2 separate regions of the Homo sapiens genome follow, and region 2 is linked to region 1. Evidence: fine-mapped expression QTL. A gene starts in region 1. The other region holds a variant in brackets. All regions are shown on one strand. Distances are between the middles of the regions.

The links.
Region 2: its variant is fine-mapped to the expression of CANT1 in whole blood (INTERVAL, PIP above 0.99).

The regions. Positions count from the first base shown.
Region 1 is chr17:79,006,143-79,016,269 of GRCh38, forward strand. CANT1 (calcium activated nucleotidase 1) reads right to left here and starts at 3,622. Exons shown (of 5, transcript NM_001159773.2): 1 at 3,522-3,622. RefSeq lists a silencer at 3,342-3,721 and an enhancer at 3,962-4,011.
Region 2 is chr17:78,979,687-78,989,813 of GRCh38, forward strand. It overlaps LGALS3BP (galectin 3 binding protein), which reads right to left and starts at 237. Exons shown (of 6, transcript NM_005567.4): 1 at 138-237. RefSeq lists an enhancer at 271-1,263. The variant G/GA (reference allele first, on the strand shown) is at 4,036.

The sequences.
Region 1 (10,127 bases):
GCAGGCACCGTCCTGTGGGACAGAAGCCTCACACGGGCCATGGCTCCATTCTCATGCCTCTTCCAGCTTCTGGAGGCACCCACATTCCCTGCCTGGTGGCCCCTCCTCCCCCTCCAAAGCCCGCCCACTGCACTTCCCCAAGGCTCTTGGCCATCATCTCCCTCCGGCTCTTCTGCTTCCCTCTTCTGTTCTTAAGGACCCTGTGATTACACTGGGCTCCCTGGGAAAATCCAGGATCATCTCACTACTTTAAGGCCGGCTGATCAGCAACCTTAATTCCCCTTTGCCATGTAATGTAACATATTCACAGGCTCAGAAGGTAGGACGTGGACATCTCGGGGAGCTGTTCCTCCACCAATCACAGGAGGAAGAGGGGAAAGAGCCTCCAGGTTTTTCCAAGGGCCAGGACCAGTCACTGTCTATGGTGTGGGCGCACAGCTTCAGAACCCTCTACGGTTTGCAGTTACTGCCTTGTAAAGAGGCTGTGTCTGCTTAATTTGTATCATCGATGTTACACCTGGAGGAATTTTAGCCAAAAGGCGACCTTCTCAGTTGAAAGGCACATTCCAAATGGCACCACACATCTGGGAAGGTGTCCTTTTCCAGAGTGTGTGAAAATAACGGGATGGGATCATCGCCCCATGGACCTGGATCAGGGCTGCCTTCCACACCGCGGTGGCACCTGCACGAGCCCACCTGCTTACTGCCACCTTCTCTCCTCACGCTTTCCTCCAGGCTCGGCTCCCGGGACACAAAGGCCGAATCGCCAGGACTTTCACTCAACCCGGCAACACCCTCAGAGCCATTCTGGGGGGTCCCAGTCTCACCTCTGCCCCACTCCCACATGGTGGCATCACGCACTGTCTTAAGTCTTAAGCCAGACTTCAACGCCTTCTTCACTTCCCATAAAACCATCCCAGAGGAACGCGGGGAGCAGCGTCCTGCCTGGGAACCAGGCGCTCCACATGACCACTGCACGCATGACAAAGACGAGCAGGGTCCAAAACAAAAAACAGAACGTCTCCCCAAACAGACTTCTCTACTGCCAGGATGATTTTTTCCTAATTAACCATCTTGATTAAAGTAAAAGGAAAATCAACATGAACATTCTTAAGAATTAATATAAAAGTTTCTAATTCCCTTGATATTGGCATTTCATAAGAGCTTTCCAGGAAATCTCGATAGTTCAGAGTGCACTGAGTGAAAAGAATGAATGCTGTGTGTCCTTGGCATCCCTGGTACCATTCAACAAACAATAGAAAAATGACCTCCTTGTGATAGTACTGACCCATTTCAGGACCTGGACAATAGTTCCAAGTCTCAGATCTTCTGTTTTTGAAAGAGAAAACACTACAGCATTTATACATCTACCTATCTACCTATACGGTTGCCAGAAAGTACCGAGACTCCGAGGACGGGCCATATGTACTTGGGGGAGCCTGCACAGGCACACACACCTCGAAAGCCACATCCAGGTGGCAGGGTAAAAACACCCACAGGGCCAGGAGAACTGCTGCTACCACACCCTGGGTCTCCTCACGTACTCTGCAGCTCAGGGGGGTCCTGCAGACCAGGTGCACAGTGACGGGTGAGTGAAAACGTTCTGGAGTACCAAGAGCTTTTACACCAACACATTTACTAAGCTGCCATGGGCTAGGAAAATATGGTTATAGCCTAAGGGGAAGAAAGGAGACCTCTGGCAATCAGAAGCGTCAAGCCTCAGATGTGCCCCTCCAGCGAGGTGTCCCAGGGTCCAGGGGTCCTATCCCGCTGCGAGTGGAGGGTTCCCTCTACCACCTTGTGACATGTCATTCTCTTTTGTGATCACGTTAATTTGGACATGAAAAAGTGACACTAGAAGTTGGTCCCCACACTGCTGCGGTGGCCTCATGACAGTGCCTGGACAAATCCATGCTTCACCTGAGTCCTGGCCGTGAAGATGCCTGGGGCTGCCCCGACAGGAAACCCTTGCCACGTCCAGAGGGGAGAGGGTTGGCTCCTTCAGTGTGCCTTTCAGCAGGGGCGTGTGCTAGGATAGAGGGCTCATTGAGGCCAGCAGGGAGGAGCACCTGGGAGGAGCCCCACTGCCGTTCCACAGGCTCCAGCCAGACTGTCCTGCTGAGAGGCCTGCGGTGGGGCTGCAGGGAGGGTCTGTGGTCCAGGCCTGGAGGGACCTTTCTCAGCAAAGCTCCTCAGAGGGAGAGGGAGGAAGAGCTGGGAGATAGCGGATCCTGAAGGGCTGCGGCACCCGCTTCCTTTTAGGAGCCTTCTACGACCTGACACTTGTTTCAAGTTTGGGCCCTTACACTGGAGAGCTAGCCGGATTCACTTGACACCAAGAGCCTCACATTTCCAAACCTCTGCTTTGTTGAAAATGTGGTAGGAAAGGCCATAGGGCATACAACCTCAAGAATAAAATAAGAAATGGAGCTGGGACACTAAGAGACGGCTTTTCCAGGGGTCACTAAGGGGGAAAGGTGTTTGGGAGAGAGATGTGTCTGCTGATGGAAGAGTGGTCACAGGTGCTCTGTGCCAAGCCTAGGGTACACAGAGGGCAAGGGAAAGACCATTCGGAGGGAGAAGCAAAGGCACCAGGCAACATGGACTGGCAAGGAGGTACCAGTCTCCAAGGATGAGAGAATCCAGACCGGATGGCAGTAGGGGTGTGAGACAGGTATGGTGGGGAGGGCGAATCATTTGCATGCAGGAAGATGAGAGTGAGCTGTGTGCCTGGAGGAAGGCTCCAAATTGGATGAGGGCAGGGAGAGCAAGGACTGGGATGGGGTGGGGAAGGTTGGCCTGTTACAGGTTTGACCAAGTGCCAGTCAGAGGGAGAAAATTCCCTTATCAGTCCAAGGAGACCCTGCATAGACCAGAGGAGGGGTATTTGAAGTCAGAAGGTGGTGGGAGGGGGTCATTCCCAGGAGGGGTGCCCCACACTAGCCAGAGCGGGGAGGCGTCCCACACTAATCAGAGGGGGATGGTCCCCACACTAACCAGAGGGGGAGGTGCCCCACATGAATCAGAGGGGGGTGGTCCCCACACTAATCAGAGCGGGGAGGTGCCCCACAGTAATCAGAGGGGGATGGTCCCCAAACTAATTAGAAGGGGGGTGTCCCACACTAATCAGAGCGGGGAGGAGTCACATAATCAGAGGGGGGAGGTGCCCACACTAATCAGAGGGGAATGGTCCCCACACTAATTAGAGAGGAGGGGTGCCCACACTAACCAGAGGGTAATGGTCCCCACGCTAGTCCCAGGGATGAGGTGTCCCAAAAGTCAGAGGGGGTGGTGTCCACCGCCTGTCGGAAGAAGGGGACTTTCCCACAGGTCAGAGGGCAGAGTCCCAGCCCAGTCTGCGAGTCAGGGGGCAGAGATCCCGCACGGGTGGGACGGGAAGGGGGCCTGACGGGTCAGGGGGCGGGACGCGGCAGGGTCGGAGGGCGGCGGCAGGCTCCGGGACGGGGGTCCGGGCCCGTGGCTGGGGCAGGGCGCCGGCGGCCGCGGGCGCAGTCACTCACCCGCTGCGGGGCTGGCTCCGGTGCCCGCGATCGGCGGGGCTTGGCTGGGCTTGGCTGGGCTTGGCTGGGCTAACGGCCGGGACGGAGGAAGGTGGCCGACTTCCGCCCCGCGCGCGCTCGCCCCGCCTCTGGGCCCGCGTTCCCGGCAGCCTCTGCTCTGCGGCTGCGCGCGGACGGCGCGAGGGCTGCTGGGAGCTGTGGTTTGTGTTTTTTTGGGTTTTTTTTTTGTTGTTTTTTTGTGTTTTTTTTTTCCGTCCTGCGCCTGCGCGCTGGAGGAGCGGCCGGCTGGCTGCAGGCTGGAGGGGCGCGAGGGTCCGCACTGGCACATGAGGGCCGTCTTCCACCGCGTTGCGCTGGAACGTGGGCCCAGCAGATCTTTTGGGGTGGGAGGCATTGAGGGGGGTGAAGGCTACTAGGGAGGGAAGTTCTCATTCTCCGAGCGAGGGCCCCCTTACATGGGCCTCCCGACCCTCGTAGTCTTGGGAGGCGGAAAACCGTGGGCCCCTTTCTGCCATCCTCATTCTCAGGCAGCCCCTCTCCTTGGCCCTTCAAAACAGCCGCCTCCAGAGTGCTGCTGACCAGTTGCCAAAGCCAGGATCAGGGAGGTCTAAGGCTGTAGTGTCCTGGGGTGGGGACGGTGGGGTGTTTCCCTGCAAAAAATCTGCAGTTGACAAACCTGCCAAACAAGGGTCTCTGATTTCTCCTTTCCCCTCCGTAGCCCTAGCCCCCGAGATATTTTAGGGCACTCTGTTAAAAGGCTTCCCCGGCCCCGCCCTCCTCCATCCCAAAGTTCTGAGAAAGGCCTGGTGGCCGTGGAGCCTCTGGCAGGAGAGCTTGGCAGAAGGGTGCACCAGCCCCCTGCCCATCTGCACCTTCAGCTTTCCTGCTTGATACCAGCTACTTCCCCCAGCTCTCTCAAAACCTTCCGTTCAGTAAAAGATACACAAGAGGAGGAATTCAAATTATATAAATGGTACGCAATGAAAAATAAGCCTCCCATTGCCGTTCTGTATTCCCTGCCCAGAGGCGATCACTAGATGTTATATGGTATCCAAACAAGTCATAAACACGTATCTTAAATTACCTTTAACTAAATAGAAATGTGCTAAACACTGTTATGCACTTTTGGTTTTTGATTTTGGAGAGGAGACAAACCTTTCTTGAATTCATTAATGTTTCTTGTCATGCTAAACTGAGTCCCAACCATGTCTCACATAATACTCATTATTGTCAGGCCTCTGAGCCCAAGCTAAGCCATCATATCCCCTGTGACCTGCACATATACATCCAGATGGCCTGAAGCAACTGAAGAACCACAAAAGATGACATTCCACCATTGTGATCTGTTCCTGCCCCACCCTCACTGATCAATTGACCTTATGACAATACACCCTCCCCACCCTTAGGATAATGTACTTCGTGATATTCCCTCACCCTTAAGAAGGTACTTTGTAATATTTTTCCCACCCTTGAGAATGTACTTTGTGAGATCCACCCCCTGCCCACAAAAAATTGCTCCTAACTCCACCACCTATCCCAAACCTATAAGAACTAATGATAATCCCACTACTCTTTGCTGACTCCTTTCTCGGACTCCGCCCACTTGCACCCAGGTGAAATAAACAGTCTTGTTGCTCACACAAGGCCCGTTGGTGGAATCTCTTCACATGGACGCATGTGACAATTATATTTGAATCTTTTATTTTCTAAAAGATCCACATGTGCCTTCCAGCTTAAGAAATAACACATTATTCCTGCATCTTTAAAACTCTCCAGGTTCTTCCTGTTCTGTACTCCCTGCTACCCCCAAGAGGTGGTAGCCACAATACTGAATGTTGTGTTAATCATTCTGTTGCCTTACTTTATAATTTTAGCACATAGGTATGTATCCCTAAACAATATATTGTTTAATTCTGTCTATTTTAACCTTTATAAAATGAAATAAAACTGTATGCAATAATTGAGAGATCCAGTGGCTCTCTCAGAGGCCTTCGAACCAGAGCAACACCATCTTGAATAAGGGCTGGGTAAATGAGACCTGCTGGGCTGCATTCCCAGGAAATTAGGCATTCTTAGTCACAGGATGAGATAGGAGGTTACAAGATACGGGTCACAGAGACCCTGCTGATGAAACAGGATGCAGTAAAGAAGCTGGTCAAAACCCTCCAAATCCAGGATGGCAATGAAAGTGACCTCTGGCTGTCCTTGCTGCTAATTATACCCTAATTATAATGTATTAGCATGCTGAAAGACACTCCCACCAGCACCATGATGATTTACAAATGCCATGGCAACGTCAGGAAGTTACCCTAGATGTTCTAACGGGGAAGAACCCTCAGTTCCAAGGAAATCTCCTCCCCTTTCCCAGAAAACTCATGAATAATCCACCCCTTGTTTATCATATGAGCGAGAAATAACCATAAAAATAGCCAACCAGCAGCCCTTGTGGCTGCTGTGCCCATGGAGTAGCCATTCTTTTATTGCTTTACTTTCTTCATAAACTTGCTTTCACTTTACTCTGCGGACTTGCCCCAGATTCTTTCTTGTGGAAAATCCAAGAACCCTCTCTTGGGGCCTGGACTGGAACCCCTTTCTGATAACATCTTGCTGAGAAACCATGAAGGGACAACACTGGAGAGACCTCTGACCCAAGGGAAATAGACTTCAGCACCAGTTGACCAACTTTGGGTACATGGTGGGGTATTTTATCCAGGGTAATGGATGGAATTGGGTTAGAGGCCCAAATTAGGAGAGTTAGAGTCCCTCCTAAGACACAGGGAGTTAGAGGCCCCTCTTTGTAAAGAACAAGAATGCTTGTTCAAACTTGGGTTGAAGGCTCAACTTCAGAATGTTAGAGGCCACCCTTAGTAAGAGCCCTCTTGGTTAAAAATGGATTCAGCACTGCAGGATGTTAACCGCCATTCTATTTGGATTAATTTGCCATGCCCTCTTTGCTGATGGCTGTGGGTGACAAGATTAGGCATGTGCAGGATCATGGGACCTGGGGAGCTTTTTTTCCTCCCCCAAAGGGGAAAACTTGAGAGCTGATGGGACTGCTGGAAAAGATCCCTTTTTGACAAGCAGCTGTCTGAACTTTTGATTCAGTGTCACTGTGATGGATGGGTCTTTCTCTGGCTTCTGTGAGCTCCTCACCTCTGCAACCCACCACAGGCAACACTCTTCTCCCTTCCCTTTCCTCTCTCTCGTTCTCGCCTTTCCCTTGTCTGTCTTCTCTGTCACTCTGGGTGATGATCTACTCTTCCATCTTGCCCAAAAACCACCTGTTGAAACTCCTGGTTGGCAGTCATTCCGCCCCCACTTTGAATGGATTAAACACTACAGGGGCCAATGGGGGAAGTTTTGAGCCTTGCCAGGTCGATATTGGGTGCTGAGGGGGGTGGCTAGTGTCTGTGTTTTGTCAAGTGCACTTTGTTCTGGCCAGAATGGAAAATGTTGATTCGATTCCTCCATGCAACTTGTTGTGTAGCATCTTGCAAAATTGAGAGGCTTTTCCTATGGTTCCATGAAATGGAAAAGGGTGATTTTTGCTTTGCGATGTGGCTTGGCCCCCACAGTTATGGTGCTGTGAGCAGGGTCACGAGGGCTGCTTAGGGAAAGGGATCCCAGAAACCTGGCATGCTGGCAAAAGGGTAAGAATTTCTTACCAGTCAGGCCTTTGGTCTCTCTCTCTCTATGCAAACCAGTTGAGTGAATGGTAAAAATCACTGTCTCCTCTGCAAGGTTTTGATGAATGGGAAAAAGGATTTGTGAGGCTAGTCTTAGGCTGTGATGAATCTGGTGTACTTTGTGCTATGAATTTGGCTTTCTGTGTCATTCTGTCATAAAAGGGGTATCATAGGATAGAATGTGGCCCTAGGACCCCTGTAAGCCCACTATTCAAGCTGGCCCAGCAAACTGGTCAGTTGACAACTTTGCTTCAGGTCACTGAAACAAAAACTGGATGAGGATTCCCCCTCGTCTTGTTTTATGTCCTTGGGAGCTTGACTTGTGACCATGGAGGGGTATTTTCTCTTGGTCTGTACCATCCCTGTGAGTCATGTTTTACAACCAAAATATATAAAAGAGCTCTATTTAATTGGCTTAAATAAAAATAAGCACTTAAATAAAATATTTTGCCAGAAAAATTAAAATGCTAATGCCTTTTTGTTCACATGACTTTAGTCATCTTTGGAAAAGCAAGGCAGTTTTAAAGATTATTGGTAAAATAAAAATGTCTTTGAAATTTAGACATTTGGTCTAAATTAGGCAGGTCAGATACTAGGTTTACTAAACTACTTCTCTGACTTTTGATAATTGTTCAATTTACCTTCTTTGGAGCCATTAGCGTCTATGTAAGGCCTGGGAACATATGGAGTTAGCCATGCCCCTAGCTATGCTGGAAGGGGTCAGACCTTATCTGCACTTTTGTCTGGTGCCCCAAGCTCTACACCTGGTACACAAATAAAATCACTTACCAAATTTTTCGCCAAAAATAAAAGTTGCTAAGAGTTAACATTGTACCATATGTAACTGAGGTTACTGGAGGAACACTTTTACATGCACAGTGTGTAAGGAAAGTATAATGTGTGTTTGGTAAAAGATTATAAGAAGGCATGGGAAGGCAGGGTGTTTTTGCCTGGTTTGGAAGTTTAAAGAGTTGTTCTTAGATAGGAGAAAGCGGAAGGTCTAAGCAAGTCGTGGAAGGTTTGTGAAAGTCTAATCTTGTAAAAGCAATTCTCTGTGTTAACATATTGGCTAAAGTTAAAGGAGTATTATTTGGTTTTTCCATAAATTGAACATTGGAATAAAAGCACAACAGGGTTTTCTTAGAGCATTGGTCTACTCTTTAACAAAAAAAATTGTAAAGGGTTATAAAAGCTTTATGAAAATCTTACATTATGGTCAAACTGATTGAAGTTAGGAAAATTTGTCTGTAAAGTTTTACTAGGAATTGAATTTGACATCAATAGTACACTCATGCAAAGATGAAATTTGGCTTTCTCTCTTGAACAAGATTTTCATGTAATATTAAAAGATAATGAAAGATTTTTGTTTACCTTTTAAATAAACTACAGGAGAAAGAAGGGAAAGAAAAGATTGTTTGAAGAGCTAAATCTTCCCTCTATCAATGAGTAAAGCCTTTTGCCTTTTTTAAATTGTTGAGTTAACATTTTGGCTAAATAAATGACTTACAGTGACCTGGAATTTTATGTTATAATATCAAGTGTTTTAAACTTTTGATATTTGACGAACTTTCCAAAATCAGATTCTAAATATGTCTTTTTCTGACCTGATTAATCATTTTAGATGGTAAAAACCCTAAAGTCCAAAAGAGACTTATTTGGCTTATTTGGTATATTAAAATCATACAGGAAGCATTATCAAGTATGAAATGGTGTTTGGCTTTCTTTAGACCATATTTGTATAAATATATTATTGGTATGCATTCTAAAATTATGGGAAATTCCTATAATGACCTAGGTGTATGTTATTGGTGACTTAGTGTATGTTATCAGTAATAATTATAATTGTTATGTAAAATTGTATGCTACAGAAGTAATGAAATTTCCTTGTCAATTGCATCTTTGACTGTGGCTATCCTAAGACTTTTTTGTCATTCAGAGACAATTATTGTCTTGTTTTAATCCTCTTCAAAAGAAGGTTTATAACCAGCTATAGGATGCTGACAATTACTCTTAAATGCGAGTGTCTGATAACTTTGGAAAGTGTGCCATTAAAATAGAGAGGAAAAAAAAGCTTCCAAGACTCTTTTGGAAAGCTAATGTGTTCTTAAATATTGAGCAAAACAGAAATTAATTGTATAGACTAATGAAAGACTGAAATAATCTTTTTACGACTTTTTGCATAAAATATTGCTGTTCCTTTCTGTTTTGTTTTCCAAGTCGAGCAAACTTTTTTATTTTTTATTTTTTTTATTTTGAGATGGAGTCTCGCTCTGTCGCCCAGGCTGGAGTGCAGTGGCGTGATCTCGGCTCACTGCAAGCTCCGCCTCCCGGGTTCATGCCATTCTCCTGCCTCAGCCTCCCAAGTAGCTGGGACTACAAGAGCCCGCCACCACAACTGGCTAATTTTTTGTATTTTTAGTAGAGACAGGGTTTCACCCTGTTAGTGAGGATGGTCTCGATCTCCTTACCTCTTGATCCGCCCGCCTCGGCCTCCCAAAGTGCTGGGATTACAGGCGTGAGCCACCGTGCCCGGCCAAACTTTTCTTTTGAACTCTTTACAGCTTTTAACAGTTGAGTAAAATACACTCCTGTAAACAAAATTTGGAGCATATTTCTTTCTCTCTACCTGATTTCTCCAAAAATTGAAAACTATTTGTGAGTATTCTTAACTTATGGCTATATATTAATAGTTATTTGCATAAGTGCAGTAAGAATCTGTTTTCTTTTGTAACAGGACACAATTGGAGAAATTGGGTTTTACTAAGGCTTTGAATGGAATGGCGTGCTTTCAAATATAAAAAAAACTGCCTTAAGGAATCAAAGTTGACTTATAGAGCTAATAAAAGGCCCTTGGAAAAACTGGCTTTATACCTTGTCTATGCAGTCCCTGTACAGGGTTCCTGCCATGTGGTAAGTAAAG
Region 2 (10,127 bases), 26 kb before region 1:
GCTGCAGTGAGCGGACATTGCATCACTGTACTCCAGCCTGGGTGACAGAGTGAGACCCTGTCTCAAAAAAAATAAAAATAAAAAAGAGAGAGAGACTGAGAGGGGTGCCCACCTGAGAGCTAGAGGCAGGAGCTTACCTGGCTGCGGTAGCTGCAACGGCCGTGTGGAGCCTCCTCGCTTCCAGCCACAGGATCCCTCTGCAGACTGGTCCTTTGACCCAGAAGCCTCTCCCAGTATGGAGCGTGGTCAGGCTGATCCCAGGAAATGCTTCAGAAAAGAGTCTACTTTCGATTTCCAGAAACCACCTGACATAGATGTCTTCCGGGATTGGCTGCTGCTGATACTCCCCAGGGCCCCTCTCTTTTGTCTCAGCTCTGCCTGTGGCTATCAGTGCCAGGCTGGCAGAGGCCCAAGGTGGGAGTCTGGCTGGAGCAAGGCCTGCAAGAGGACTAACAGCCACACTCAGTTGGAAAGGCCGCCAGGCTGGTCAGGGGCTGGCGTTTGGTGGACGGGAGGGGAAGAAGCAGAGGCTCTGGGCCCAGACAGTCTGCACCTGGTGGTGTGGCTGTGGACTCTGACAGAGCGCTCCGAGTCTTTTCCTGGGTCTAGCACGTTGCTGGCTGGGTGAACACCACACAGGGGGCTGCTTATGTGCAAATCCACCCTCTCTGTGCTCTTGGCATGCTGACCACACAGAGGGCCTGTGCCCCACAAGGTTGCATGGCACTGTCCCCTGTCCCCAGGGGAGGGAGGCACTGAGAACCAGGTATGCAGCTGGCCAGTGGAGGAGCTGGACCCTGCTCCAACACCTGACCCCAGAGCCTGTGCTCGCCACTGCTGGACCTGTGGCCACTCTCCTACTGTCTCCCCCTCAGCGGGGCGGGGGACAGAGCCTCTCTGGGTGACATAATGGCTCTGTCCAGCTCATACCCATTCCCTTTCCTCCCACTGAAAGCCGGCACCTCAACTGTCCCTTGGGGAGCACCCCCTCCCATTCCCGGCTGTGTGGTTCCCAGAGGGCCCCCAGCTCTTGGCCTTCAACCACCCAAGGCCTGGCTGTCTGAGCCCTGCGGGGGCCCCGGGCCACACTGCTGGTTTCAGGGTGGGGCTGTGAGCCCAGCCAGCCGGTGAGAGCCAGCTTCTGACTGAGAGGATGTGGGCCCAGGCTGCTGGGGCCGGTGGGGCAGAGCAGAGGGAAGCAGGCATCCTCCGGCCTGAGCTCCTGGGTCCAGCTGGCCTAATCCATGGTCAAGGCTGGGCTTCACCGCTCAGTGAGGCAATCAGCAGCCGCTCTTGTTTCTGTCACTTGCACCCCATGGTTCTGGATGAGCCTTGGGATGTGCCCAGGCCTCTGACCAGTGGTTCTCAGCCTGGGCTGGACAGAAGAATCATCAGGGAGTTTTACAAACTCCTAATGCCTAGACCCAGGAAGTCACCATCTCTGGGAGTAGGGGACAGGCAGGGGCATTTAAAAGCCCCCAGGCAGTCCCACTGGGTGGAAGGCCCTGGTTCCCTGGCAGCTTAGAGTCCGAGACAGCCAGCCCAGAGGTCAGACATTCAATGACTATTTCCTTCAAGGTGTGAGGTTTTAGGCAGCTGCACGGTTTGCCTAATCCCCTCCAGAGGAACTGTGAAGATCCAGGGGCAGGTGCAGCTGGAAATAGAACTGGCTGTGGGGAGTTTAAAAAAATCTCATCTGGATTAAGGGCCTGAGTGCACAGAAACCCCAGCATCATCCCTTCTCAGCAGTGCTAATGACTTCTGCCCAAGTGGCCAGGGAAGGACAGGAGTGCAGAGGACGGGAGGGCATCTCTGGGAAGTGCTGGGAAAGGTTTTAAAACTCAGGTGCCGAATCTTTAGCCCCAGAGTCCGGGAAAGTCCTAAGCCATCCAGGCAGGTAAAATGGAAAACCCAGAGGCCTCCTCGTGGAATCGGAGCACCAACATCTGCTCCCCTGGGGCTCGCAAGGCCTTTCCGGTGTGCGATGACCATGGGGTGGAGGGAAGCGCTGACAGGGGACAGGCAGGGGAAGGGGCAGCGGCTCGGCTCTGAGAAGACAGCTGGGTGAAAGCCTCAGATTCGTGTGGACAGAACTGCTGTCATCAGGAAGCCGCTCCCAAGACATGGTAGGGAAAGTGCGGGGCATTTCAGAGATGAGAATGGTTAACTGGCCTGTAAGGTCATCTTTTGTGCCTCTACCCCAAACCTCTCCGCAAATTGAGGAACGCTCCCTATAATAGCTAATATGGATTTCGCCAGGCATTACTATAAGCCTTGCCACAAATGAATGCATTTAATACTTCCAGCCATGATGGGAAGCAGCTGCTCTTATATTCCCTGTTACAGATGAGAAAACAGAGGCTCAGTGAGGCGACGTAATCGGCTAAAGTTGTGCAGCTGGTAGGGGAAGAACTGGGGTTTCAAACCCATCCTTTCCTTCTTTTTAAAAATTGGCTTTCTTGGCATATAATTTACGTGCAAAGTTTTGGCAAATGTGTAGCGATGGTATCATGACAACAATCATTACCTAGGGCGTTTCAATCACCCCTAAGAATTCTCTTATGCCCCTCTGCAGCCACCCCTCCCCCCAGCCCCTTCCCAGCAACCACCTCTCAGCTTCTGCCACTGCTGGTTGCCTTTCCTAGAATTCCCTCTATTTTGTCTTCTTTTTTAAGACACAGTCTCCCTCCATTGCCCAGGCTGGAGTGCAGTGGAACAATCTCGGCTCACTGCAATCTCTGCCTCTCAGGTCCAAGTGATTCTCCTGCCTCGGCCTCCCGAGTAGCTGGGATTACAGGTGCGCCCACCACCACGCCCAGCTAATTTTTGTATTTTTAGTAGAGAAGGGGTTTCTCCACATTGGCCAGGCTGGCCTCGAACCCCTGAACTCAGGTGATCCGCCTGCCTCTGCCTCCCAAAGTGCTGGGATTACAGGCATGAGGCACCACTCCTGGACCCTAGAATTCCCTCTAAATGGAATCATACAGTATTTAATATTTTGCATGTGGCTTCTTTTACTTACCACAGTGCTTCTGAGATCCATCCATGCTATCTCAACAATCAGTAACTGGCTCCTGGTTTTGCTGGGTGGCGGCCCACTGTATGGACAGAACACCACTGTTAATACATGTTTGCACTGATGGACATTTGGGTCATTCCATCTTCCACTATTATGCATAAAGCTGCTGGAAACATTTGGATACAAGTCTTTGTGTGAAAATAAGTATTTATTTTGTGTAAATACCTAGGAGCAGGATTACTGGGTCATATGGTAGATATATGTTTACCTTTTTAAGAAACTACCCAGCACTTCAGGAGGCTGAGGTGGGTAGATCACGAGGTCAGGAGTTCAAGACCAGCCTGGTCAAGATGGTGAAACCCCGTGTCTACAAAAAAATACAAAAATTAGCCAAACATGGTGGTAGGCGCCTGTAATCCCAGCTATTCGGGAGGCTGAGGCAGGAGAATCGCTTGAACCCAGGAGGCAGAGGTTGCAGTGAGCCGAGATCACACCACGGTACTCCAGCCTGGGCAACAGAGCGAGATGCCGTCTCAAAAAAAAAAAAAAGAAAAGAAACTGTTTTCCAAAGTTGCTGAAACATTTTGCATTCTTGCTAGTAATTTCTTCATGTTCCAGTGGTTTAAATCGTCACCAATACTTGGTATTGTCAGTCTTTAAATTTCATCCATTCTGGTGGGCATGTAGTGAAGTTTCATTGTGGTTATAATGACGAATGATAGGCCGGGTGCTGTGGCTCACGCCTGTAATCCCAGCACTTTGGGAAGCTGAGGTGGGCAGATCACCTGAGGTCAGGAGTTTGAGACTAGCCTGATCAACATGGAGAAACCCCATCTCAACTAAAAAATACAAAAAAATTAGCCGGGCGTGGTGGCGCATGCCTGTAATCCCAGCTACTTGGCAGGCTGAGGCAGGAGAATCACTAGAACCTGGAAGGCAGAGGTTGCAGTGAGCCGAGATCGTGCCATTGCACTCCAGCCTGGGCAACAAGAGTGAAACTCCGTCTCAAAAAAACA[G/GA]AAAAAAAAAAAAAAGACGAATGATGTTGAGCATCTTTATGCTTCTCTGTCATTCACACATCCTCTTTGGCAAAGCGTCTGTTCAAATCTTATGCACGTTTGAAAACTGGCTTGTTTGTTGTGTAAGTTCTTTATATATATTCTGTTCCTGTAGCAGATATATGATTTGCACTTTTATTTTTAATGAAAAGCTTGCTTTTCATTATCTTTTTTTTTTTTTCTTTTTTTTGAGACAGAGTCTCGTTCTGTCGCCCAGGCTGGAGTGCAGTGGTGCGATCTCGGCTCATTGCAAGCTCCGCCTCCCGGGTTCAAGCCATTCTCTTGCCTCAGCCTCCCGAGTAGCTGGGACTACAGGCGCCCGCCACCATGCCGGCTAATTTTTTGTATTTTTTTAAGTAGAGACGGGGTTTCACCATGTTGGCCAGGATGTTCTCGATCTCTTGACCTCGTGATCCACCCACCTCCGCCCCACAAAGTGCTGGGATTATAGGCGTGAGCCACCACGCCTGGTGAGCAGAGGGTGACTGAATAGAATGGGAGGCAGGATGGCCCTAATCAGTCCCAGCTTGACTTTTCCCTTTAGCTGGTGATTTTGGGGCCCAAGATATTTTCCTTTCACAACTCTGTTCTCTGTGGGAACAAATGACTTCAACTTTAAGGCAGGAGAATGGTGTGCACCCGGCAGGCAGAGGTTGCAGTGAGCCGAGATTGCGCCACTGCACTCCAGCCAGGGCGACAGAGAGAGACTCCGTCAAAAGAAAAAAAAAAGAATGTATCCATTTGTCTCTCATCTACCTGTGACCTGGAAGCCCCCTCCCCACTTGGAGTTGTCCTGCCTTTCCAGACTGAACCAATGTTCATTTTACATGTGTTGATTGATGTCTTATATCTCCCTAAAATGTATAAAACCAAGCTGTGCCCTGACCACCTTGGGCACACACTGCCAGGCCCTCCTGAGGCTGTGTCAGGGGCGCCCACGTCCTCAACCTTGGCAAAATAAACTCTAAATTAACTGAGCCCGGCTGGGCGCGGTGGCTCACGCCTGTAATCCCAGCACTTTGGGAGGGTGAGGAGGGCAGATCACTTGAGGTCAGGAGTTCAAGACCCGCCTGGCCAACATGGTGAAACCCCATCAATACCGAAAATATAAAAAATGAGCTGGGTGTGGTGGTGCACACCTGTAATCCCAGCTACTCGGAAGGCTGAGGCAGGAAAATCACTTAAACCTGGGAGGTAGAGGTTGCAGTGAGCCAAGATCACACCACTGCACTACAGCCTGTCAGGAGAGAGATTCTGTCCCAAATAAATAAATAAATAAATAAAATAAAGTAAATTAACTGAGGCCTGTCTCAAATTTTCAGGGTTCACAGGGTTGTCCCAGCACCATGGTGGGAAGACAGTCTTTTGTATTTCAGGTGAATTACCCTGGCTCTTTTGTCAAAAGTCAATGGGCCACATCCATAAGGGTCTATTTCTGGACCCTATTCTGTCTCACTTGTCGGTGTCTGTTTTTCTTATGGCAATACTACACTGTTTTGATTACTTACAGCATTATATTAAGTCTTGAAGCCAGATAGTATAAGTCCTTCAACTTTGCTTTTCTTTTTCAAAATCAAGTCTGTAGACCCATGAAGACGTATACTGTTTTGTTCTTTTGAGTCTCTGATTTCTTTCATCAGTGTTTTGTAGTTTCAGGATGTAGATGTCACACATCTTTTGTTAGACTTATACGTAACTATTTCCCGATTTTTGGTGCTACTGTAATTGACAATGTTTAAAAATTTTACAATTTCTAGTTGTTCACTGCAGTTATAATAAAGTTAAATTTTGTATGTGGAATTAATATATTAATATGTTAAATATTAATGTATTAAATTTAACATATTAATATATATTAAATATTAATATATTAAATTTAGTATGTGTAGTTTCGTGGTTTTTTTGAGACAGAGTCTCGCTCTGTTACCCAGGCTGGAGTATAGTCGTACAAATACTGCTAACTGCAGCCCCAATCTCCTGGGCTCAAGTGATCCTCCCACTTCAGCCTCCCATGTAGCTGGGACCACAGGCAGGCGTGACCACATCCAGCTAATCTTTACATTTTTTTGTAGAGACAGGGTCTTGCTATGTTGCTCAGGCTGGTCTTGAACTCCTGGGCTTAAGTGATTCTCTTGCCTGAGCCTCCCAAAGTGCTGGGATTACTAAAGGCGTGAGCCACCATGCCTAGCCTCGTAGTTATTTTTTGAAGATTTCTTAGGCTTGTCTAGCTAGTCAAAGCTTGTCACTGGCGAATAAAGATAGTTCTATTCCTTCTTTTCAAATCTGAATAACTTCCTTTTTTTTTCTTTTGCACCAATAGGATGAGGAATAAAAGTGATGAGAGCAATGTCAGTTTCCTGGGTTTGGTAAATGTACTGTGCTTAGGTAATCAGTACACTGGAGGGAGCCACATGAATGCTGCACAGAAACACGACTGCTGGCCCCGCTTATCTGCAGTTTCACTTACTGCAGTTTCAGTTACCCACGGTCAACTGAGGTCTGAAAATATTAAATGGAAGATTCCAGAAATAATTCATAAGTTTTAAATTGCATACTGTTCCTAGTGGGATGAAATATTGTGTCATCCTGCTCTTTCCCTTCTTCATCACAAGGGCGAGTACAGTACACTAAGATATTTAGAGAGAGACCACATGCACATAACTCTTATTTTAGACTATTGTTCTAATTGTTCTATTTACTATGTTACTGTTAATCTCTTACTGTGCCTAATTTATGAATTAAGCTTTATCGCAGGTATGAATGTAGAACAGTAAATTCCACATTATCTATGGTTTCAGGCATCCACTGCGGGTCTTGGAATGTATCCCCCACAGAAGGGGGATATGAACCAAAAAGTATCTGAGACTGTTCTCAACCAGTTAATTTTGCCAAGGTCAAGGATAAGGCCAGGGAGGCAAAACAAAACGTGACAAAACACGGAATCGCTGAAACAGTCTGTGGTCTGTGCCTTTCTCCAAAGGTGACTTTGAGGGCTTCCATATTTAAAGGGGAAAAGCAGGCTGGAGGGGGAAGTGGGAGGGTCCGGTCCTAGTGCTGCCGCCACGGGTTGCAAGAGAAGAGAAGCAGGCAGGGGAACAGTCAATCGTGTATTCATCTGGTGCTCAGTAAATTGGCACTTCACATAAGATAAGGTGAGCACAGTAGCTACCTGCCGAGGTCTTTAGCCTTTCCTCTGTCGCTCTCTGCTTAGGAACAAGAGGAAAGGCAGCTGCTTGCATGACTCAGCTCTCAGCTTCCTGTTTTTTCCTATTGGAAGGGTGCATTGCGGTTTTTATTTTCCTTTCATAGGACCTACTGTATTTTTGCAACTTCTGTGTGGTTCAAAATTTTATTTCAAAGGAAAAAATGGTGGGGAAGAAAGTGGTGAAAGCAGACACTCTTGCGTTGTTCCTCAGGGGGAAGGCATTCAGTGTCTGACCGTGAAGTAGGAGCTTAGCTGTGGACTTCTCACCGGAGCCCTTCATCGGGTTAAGGATGTTCCCTAACGGGTTTTTTGGCTTTTTGTTTAGAATTGGATTGGGTGAATGGCTGTTAGATTCTGTCAAATGCTTTTTCTCTATCTTTTGAGATTATCATGCTTTTCCCCCTTTTTAGTCTTTTTTTTTTTTTTTTTTTTTTTTGAGATGGAGTCTCGCTCTGTCGCCCAGGCTGGAGAGCAATGGGATGATGTCGGTTCACTGCAACCTCCGCCTCTCAGGTTCAAGCGATTCTCCTGCCTCAGCCTCCCAAGTAGCTGGGACTATAGGTGCGCCCCACCACCCCCAGCTAATTTTTCGTGTTTTTAGTAGAGACGGGGTTTCACCATGTTGGCCAGGCTGGTCTCGAACTCCTGACCTCAAATGCCCACCTCAGCCTCCCAAAGTGCTGGGATTACAGGCATGAGCCACCACACCCTGCCCCTTTTTAGTCTTCATATGAATTTCATTGATTGATTTCAGAATACTGAACTAACCCTGTATTCCTAGAATAAACCACACCTATCGTGAAGTATTCTTGTCAGAGACGTTTGAACCAGAGCCACTCCATCTTGAACCAGGTCTGGGTAAATTACGGCTGAGACCTGCTGGGCTGCATTCCCAGGAGGTTAAGGCATTCTTAGTCACTGGAGACAGAAGGTTGGCACAAGATACAGGTCATACCTTGCTGATAAAACAGGCTGGCCGGGCGCAGTGGCTCACACCTGTAATCCCAGCACTTTGGGAGGCCGAGGCAGGCGAATCGCGAAGTCAGGAGTTTGAGACCAGCCTGGCCAACATGGTGAAACCCCATCTCTACTAAAAATATACAAATTAGCAGGGTGTTGTGGCGCACGACTGTAATCCCAGCTACTCGGGAGGCTGAGGCAGGAGAATCGCTTGAACCTGGGAGTCGGAGGATGCAGTGCGCTGAGATTGTGCCACTGCACTCCAGCCTGGGCAACAGAATGAGACTCCATCTCAAAAACAACAACAACAACAAAACAGGCTGCAGTAAAGCCGGCTAAAACCCACCAAAATCAAGCGGCGATGAGAGTGACCTCTGGCTGTCCTCACTGCTATGCTCCTGCAAGCACCATGATAAATGCCATGGCAACATGAGGAAGTTACCCTCTATGGTCTAAAAACGGGAGGCATGAAGAATCCACCCCTTGTTTAGCATATCCTCAAGAAATAACCATAAAAAGGGACAGTCAGCAGCCCTGGAGCTACTCTGCCTTTAGAGTTGCTATTCTTTATTCCTTTACTTTTTTTTTTGAGATGGAGTCTCACTCCATCGCACAGGCTGGAGTGCAGTGGCGCGATCTCGGCTCACTGTAACCTCCATCTCCCAGGTTCAAGCGATTCTCCTGCCTCAGCCTCCTGAGTAGCTGGGATTACAGACATGCACCGCCACGCCCAGCTGATTTTTATATTTTTAGTAGAGATGGGGTTTCACCATGTGGTCAGGCTGGTCTCCAACTCCTGATCTCGTGATTTGCCTGCCTCAGCCTCCCAAAGTGTTGGGATTACAGGCGTGAGCCACCGCACCTGGCCTACTTTCTTAATAAACTTGCTGTCACTTTACTCTATGGACGTGCCCAGAATTATTTCTTGTGTGAGCTCCAAGAACCCTCTCTTGGTGACCTGAATCAGACCCCTTTCCGGTAACATTCTAATTTTTGATTATTGCTGAATTTGGCTTGCTAATCTGTGCTAAGGATTCTTTTTTTATTTTTTATTTTTATTTATTTTTTTTTTTTGAGACGGAGTCTCGCTCTGTCACCCAGGCTGGAGTGCAGTGGCGCGATCTCGACTCACTGTAAGCTCTGCCTCCTGGGTTCATGCCATTCTCCTGCCTCAGCCTCCCGAGTAGCTGGGACTACAGGTGCCCGCCACTGTGCCCGGCTAACTTTTTTGTATTTTTTAGTAGAGATGGGGTTTCACTGTGTTAGCCAGGATGCTCTCAATCTCCTGACCTCGTGATCTACCCGCCTCGGCCTCCCAAAGTGCTGGGATTACAGGCGTGAGCCACTGCTCCTGGCCAGGATTTTTACATCTATGTTCATGAGGGATACTGGTCTGTATTTTTTTTTTTTGTAATGTATTTTTCTGGTTTTGGTATCAGTATAGTGGTGCCCTCATAAAATGAGTTGGAAAAGTTTCCCAACTCCCAGAATCATGGAAGATTTTGTGTTGCTTTCGTATTATTTCTCCCTTACATGTTTGGTACAATTCAAAAGTGAAGCCATCTGGGCCAGGGGTTTTCACAGTGTGACGGTATTTTATTTTTGCTTTAACTCTTTTAACAGCATGAAGGGATAACTTACCTTGAGATTTATCAATTTAAAGTGTACCGTGGGCCGGGCGCGGTGGCTCACACCTGTAATCCCAGCACTTTGGGAGGCCGAGGCGGGCAGATCACAAGGTCAGGAGATCGAGACCAAACTGGCTAACATGGTGAAACCCCGTCTCTACTAAAAATACAAAAAATTTGCCGGGCACGGTGGCGGGAGCCTGTAGTCCCAGCTACTCGTGAGGCTGAGGCAGGAGAATGGCGTGAACCCGGGAGGCGGA